2 separate regions of the Homo sapiens genome follow, and region 1 is linked to region 2. Evidence: fine-mapped QTL for protein levels in blood plasma. Region 2 holds a variant in brackets. A gene starts in the other region. All regions are shown on their forward strands.

Region 1 (3,027 bases), not on the chromosome of region 2:
CTGGCACATAGAAACTGCTCAGCTGTTATTCTTGCTTGTATTATGCCTAAACCCAGCTCCCAGTCAACACAAGTGCTACTCTGGCCATAAGGCCCAAGTTTTTTATATACCCCCCCAATTTTTATTCAAAACAAGTGAGTCTATAAATCTATGAAGAGACAGAAAAACTTGTTTCTTATGACCCTCTGAGAAAGTGAATATTGACTACATCAGAGGAACAAATATTACATTTATAAGCACATTGACTTATTATGGGGATAAGGCATTGTTATTTCATTGTCTAGAATGAGTAAACATAATTAATAATTGTAAGCATCCATTAAGCATGTTATGTAAGTTAAAAAAAAGTAAAGATAAGAAAGTCCTTGGCTTTGTATACAGTTTACTACAAGGGAGGTTTCTCTTAATTAAATATGAAAAATATGAAATAATTGCTGTTCTTCCATTAGTAAAGAACAGTTTAGCTATTATACACCCAAGTCATTATAATTAATGTGTAACTAAATGACTTGAGTTAGAGATTAAAGGATTGGTAGGGTTTATAATTCTGAGGAATATCCAGTGGTGAGACATTCAATGAGTAAAAATGTTGTGTTTCTTCAGATTTGTAATTCTTCAAAACCATGTTTATAAAATATCTCTCACATTTATGAGAACTCTAAAAATTAACCAACTAGAAATTTTGTTAGTTGATACTGCTGTTTTAAAGCTATAACTTAAACCTTGAAACAAATTTAATTGATCAATTTAATTGTAGGTAGTGATTACTGTCTATAAATTTGAAGCTGGGAAAAATGTTATTAAATGAAATGACCAAGCTAAAATGAAATTCTATCTAGAAGTTAGGTGAAGTATTTTCAAAAAGGATAAATGGGCTTAAATATATGGATCATGACTGGACAGAGGTGTCTGTGGGCCTAGTCTTCCAAAAAGAGACAATTATTACTAGTAATTTAAAAAAGCAAAAGTAGAAGCATACATTGTGTTAGTCTATATACCCTAGGATCACAAAAGGAAGATAATTGTAGGAAAATTCATGGTAAAGTACAAACCCAATCACATCACAAAATGCTTTGCCAATTTCCAAATTTGTAATGGTATTTCTCACCCAGTTCTTTCATGTAATCCTCAAAGTTTTCACTGGAGACCAGCTTCCAGGTTCCCAAGAAGGGCTCAACCATCATGGAACACTTGCTGAGAAGAGCCACTCGTAATTGAAAACCAAAGAAATATAGGCATTACGGTGCTGCCAGTAGTTTAATTTAAAGAGCGTCTTCATCACGTGACTCTTCTGAAATGGCCAATGGGCAACAGCAGCAAGACTAAAGATTCTAGGCACCAGCATTTGACTCATTTTATTTACCTCCAAATTAAGAGACAGAAAATTAGCATGTAAAATTAAATTCTGGTCAATGATTTTAGCTTCTAGCAAAAAGATTTACACCCAAGTCACCTGACAAATATTACTTGTGGAACGGAGACAATCTTCAATAGACATCAGCTTTTTGAACAATGAATACTGAGTCAACCCTGGAGGAATATCCTGACAAATTGATAAACACCTGGCTGAGATGTTTTCCTACCTAAGACAAGAAATCCTTGCTTGGTCCACCTCAGCTGTTTTTTGTTTGGGTAAGTCACAGTGCTCAAACATCCTCTTCATTAAAATAATATCTTCCCTTCCCTTCCTTACAGGGTTGATGGGTTGATATTAGTTAATGTAACTAAAATGCCTATAATTGCTTGGAGGGAAATGGAGGGTATTATTAATATATTATCATTGTTGTTAATCGAAGGTAATTGAGGACAGGAAAGAAAGGTGACAATTATCATTGGATAATAGTATATGATTTAAGCTCTGAAAAGGAAGCAGAGCGAATGCCTACAAAATTCGTCTTTCAGGCTTACAAAGTAAACTCTACATTAAAAGATATTTTAAATTATAAGAAAAAATTTTGGCAAGTTTCATATAGAAAAAGATGTTTGGAATCTGCATTCTAAAAGAAAGACAAAGGCAGCAAATGGTTTCAATCTCTGTGCCATTACTTCTGAAACCATCTTCTGCAACCCCAATAATGGAAGTGGACTTTGCAGGTACTGAGTTTAGTAAGAAGGAGTAGATTCAGTAGCTGTTGATTTACATTACGGTTTTGAACTCCAGTTAACTTTAGAAGATGTTGGAAAGTTAGTGTCAGGGACCAGAAGAAGAATATTTATATTTTTACCTGCTTTGTATGAAGTATTTATTTAATTCAGAAAATATTGTTTGTGAACAAAATAAACAGGAGGTTGATATTTTGGTACTGTAAAACAATAACTTAAGTGGAATAAAGGATGGCTTTTGATGAAAACATATAAAGAAGAAACATATAATGTGATATCTTTATGGGTGGGACAATTATTAAATTATCTACAGTGCAAAACAGGGTAAGTGAAAATCCTGGAGTTAATTTCAGGAAACTAAGACCCAAGCTCAAAATAAGTGCCTCAGCAGTTGAAAGTGCATTCAGAGGTGATGTTCAAATATAGAGCAAGTTGTTAAACGTTTGCTTAACTGGTTCGAGATGTGTATGCACTCTCTGCTTTAAAGAAAGCAAGCATACATTGCTATGCCTGTTGGCCAGCTGGGTAGTGTAGCAAAGGTCTCCCATCAGCATAATCTTCCTTGTTGTTTTGATTCTCCTGTCATAGAATGATATTCCTGTGGTCCGTTTAGAACTCAGTTGGCCCATGAGACAAAAGCTAACATCAGATTTCTGGTTTCAATTATCCTCAGCAAACTAACGCAGGAAGAGAAAAACACCTCATGTTCTCACTTATAAGTGGGAGCTGAACAGTAAGAACACATGGACACAAGGAGGAGAACAATGCACACTGGAGCCTGTTGGGGCCAGGGCTATGGGGGGAGGGAGAGCATCAGGATAAATAGCTAATGCATGTGGGGCTTAATACCTACGTGATGGGTTGATAGGTGCAGCAAACCACCATGGCACACATTTACTTATATAACAAACCTGTACGTTCTGC
Region 2 (2,500 bases):
AGTTCTGGGATTACAGGGAAGTAATCCCAGTTAAGTAGTGGTTGAAAGAAGGAGGTAAGGTGGCTCGTGAGCCACCACACCCGGCTAATTTTTGTATTATTAGTAGAGATGGGGTTTCACCATGTTAGTCAGGCTGGTCTTGTACTCCTGACCTGAGGTGATCCGCCTGCCTCAGCCCCCAAAAGTGCTGGGATTACAGGCGTGAGCCACTGAGCCCGGTCTTTTTTTTTTTTTTTTTTTTTTTTTTGAGACGGAGTCTCTCTCTGTTGCACAGGCTGGAGTGCAGTGACACGATACCAGGTCACTGCAACCTCCGCTTCCCAGGTTCAAGCAGTCCTCCTGCCTCAGCCTCCTGAGTAGCTGGGATTGCAGGCGCACGCCACTACATCCAGCTAATTTTTGTATTTTTGGAAGAGATGGGGTTTTACCATGTTGGCCAGGCTGGTCTCGAACTCCTGACCTCAGGTGATCCGCCTACCTCGGCCTCCCAAAGTGCTGGGATTACAGGCGTGAGCCACCACCCCCAGCCAAGACACTGTTCTTCTATCCCATGAGCAACGAAAACTGAGGACCCGAGCTGGGGAAGGGCAAGAGGAGTGAAGAGGGAGGAATGGATGCAATGCCCATTGCCAACGGTGATAGAATGGCCTGGGCTTGGTAGCTGATTGCAGGATGAGGGAAAGGGTTTTGTCAAAGGTGACTGCGAGATTTTACCCAGGTTGTGACATTATAGGACATTAAAGCTACCATTACAGGTGACAAACAGGAAGACACAGGTTAGAGGTAGATTTGGAGATTGTGAGTTCCTTTTGGATGTTTTGAGTTTCTGGTTCTGCTGAGACATCAGCTGAGCATGTTGAACAGGTGATTGGAAATAAGGGCCTGGAGCTCAGGAAAGAGGTCAAAGTGAAGATACACACAAGGTAATCAGCACTATAAAGATTAAAACTGTAGGAGCCAGGGGAGGAGTCTCA[C/G]TCCCGTAAGCCCAGCACTTTGGGAAGCCAAGGCAGGATTGCTTGAGCCCAGGAGTTCAAACCAGCCTGGGCAAGAGAGTGAAACCCCCATCTCCACAAAAAACGCAATATTAGCCGGGCATGGTGGTGCGCCTAGAGTCCCAGCTACTCAGGAGGTTGAGGCAAGGGGATCACTTAAGCCCAAGAGCTCAAGTCTGCAGTGAGTTATGATCGAGCCACTGCACTTCAGCCTGGGCAACAGAGTGGGACCTTAAAAAAAAAAAAAAAGAAAAAACTATAGGAGTGAGTTGGGTGTGGGGAGCTTTTAGAGGGAGTTGAGAAAACAGGACTGAGAACAGAATCTTACAGAACATAAAATTTTAGAGAACCAAAGAAACTGGAAAATGAGGTGCAGACAGAATGGATAAGATTTAGGAACTAGAAGTACTGGAGTTGAGCCAGGGTGGTACACTGTGACTGGAAGCCAAGAGAAGCCAGCGTTGCACGGAGGGTTTCCACAGCAGGATCGAGTATTGCACAGAGTTAGGCGAGGTCATTGAGACTGACAGGTAAGAGATCATTGTAATTTCAGCTGAGTAGTGGAAATACAAGGCAAATTATAAAGAATTTAGGTGGACCGGGCATGGTGGCTCACATCTGTAATCCCAGCTATTCAGGAGGCTGAGGGAGAAGAATCGCTTGAACCCGGGAGGCAGAGGTTGTAGTGAGCCAAGATCGTGCCACTGCACTCCAGCCTGGGTGACAGAGTGAGTGAGACTCCGTCTCAAAAAAAAAAAGAATTTTTTTGATATATTTGCCAATGAAATGAAGGAAAAAATAGGGTAGTAATTTGAGGGAGTGGCATGATCAAAGCAAACAAATTTGTTAGGATTAGGGAGTTTATATATGGAAGCAGACAGAAGGAGCAAGTGGAGAGGAGGAACTGGTGTTAACAGCAAGAGAGAGCATAAGATGTGGAGAGAAAGGATCCCAGAGAGATGAATGGGGAGGAAAGAGGGGGGGAGCATCTACCCCCGGGATCCCAGAGAGATGAATGGGGAGGAAAGAGGGGGGGAGCATCTACCCCCGAACTGGAGGAAAAGGGGGTAAGAAGCACCCAAGAGGCCCTGTTCCTGGCCAGGTGCTGGCCCAATTACCGAGTTTATCTCTGAGCAACCCAGGAGGTCAGCATCATTATACTCATTTCATAGATGAGGCAATTAAGACTCAGAGAAGCTGCCCTGCCAGTAAGCATGAGATCTGGGTTTCAACCTCAGCCCTAGTCCAGAGTCCTCACTCCTTCCCTGCCACCACAATGTCTAGTTCCTGGGAATGACAGAAGGAAAGAGGAGGGTGTGGTACAGGCAGGAAGGAGCTCTGAACGGTTCCCTTATGTTTCTCCTGCAACAGGAAGCTGGCAGCAGACCACCCATTCCTGAAGGAGATGCAAGATCAAGGGGAGAACCTGTATGTGGTGATGGAGGTGGTGGAGACGGTGCAGGAGGTCACACTGGAGCGAGCCGGCAAGGCAGAGGCCTGCTTCTCCC

Which allele goes with the higher level. Alleles are on the strand shown, and positions count from the first base shown. The strength of an association depends on the size of the effect and on how common the allele is.
For the plasma level of the protein whose gene starts at base 1,237 in region 1, G is the low allele of the variant in region 2 and C is the other (strong association).

The links. PIP is the posterior inclusion probability: the model's chance that the variant is causal. The UK Biobank Pharma Proteomics Project read protein levels with antibody pairs (Olink). The fine-mapping took linkage between variants from a reference panel, not from the people measured, so its PIPs are less certain.
Region 1: FABP9 starts here. The variant in region 2 is fine-mapped to the plasma level of the FABP9 protein (UK Biobank, PIP above 0.99).

What each region holds. Positions count from the first base shown.
Region 1 is chr8:81,460,343-81,463,369 of GRCh38, forward strand. FABP9 (fatty acid binding protein 9) reads right to left here and starts at 1,237. Exons shown (of 4, transcript NM_001080526.2): 1 at 1,109-1,237. The coding sequence starts at 1,181. LOC101927118 (a long non-coding RNA gene) reads left to right here and starts at 1,116. Exons shown (of 9, transcript XR_001745980.2): 1 at 1,116-1,632.
Region 2 is chr17:39,968,119-39,970,618 of GRCh38, forward strand. GSDMA (gasdermin A) reads left to right here. Exons shown (of 12, transcript NM_178171.5): 4 at 2,364-2,500. Among named protein-coding and RNA genes, the nearest start is that of GSDMA, 6.4 kb to the left of the region's middle. The variant C/G (reference allele first, on the strand shown) is at 975.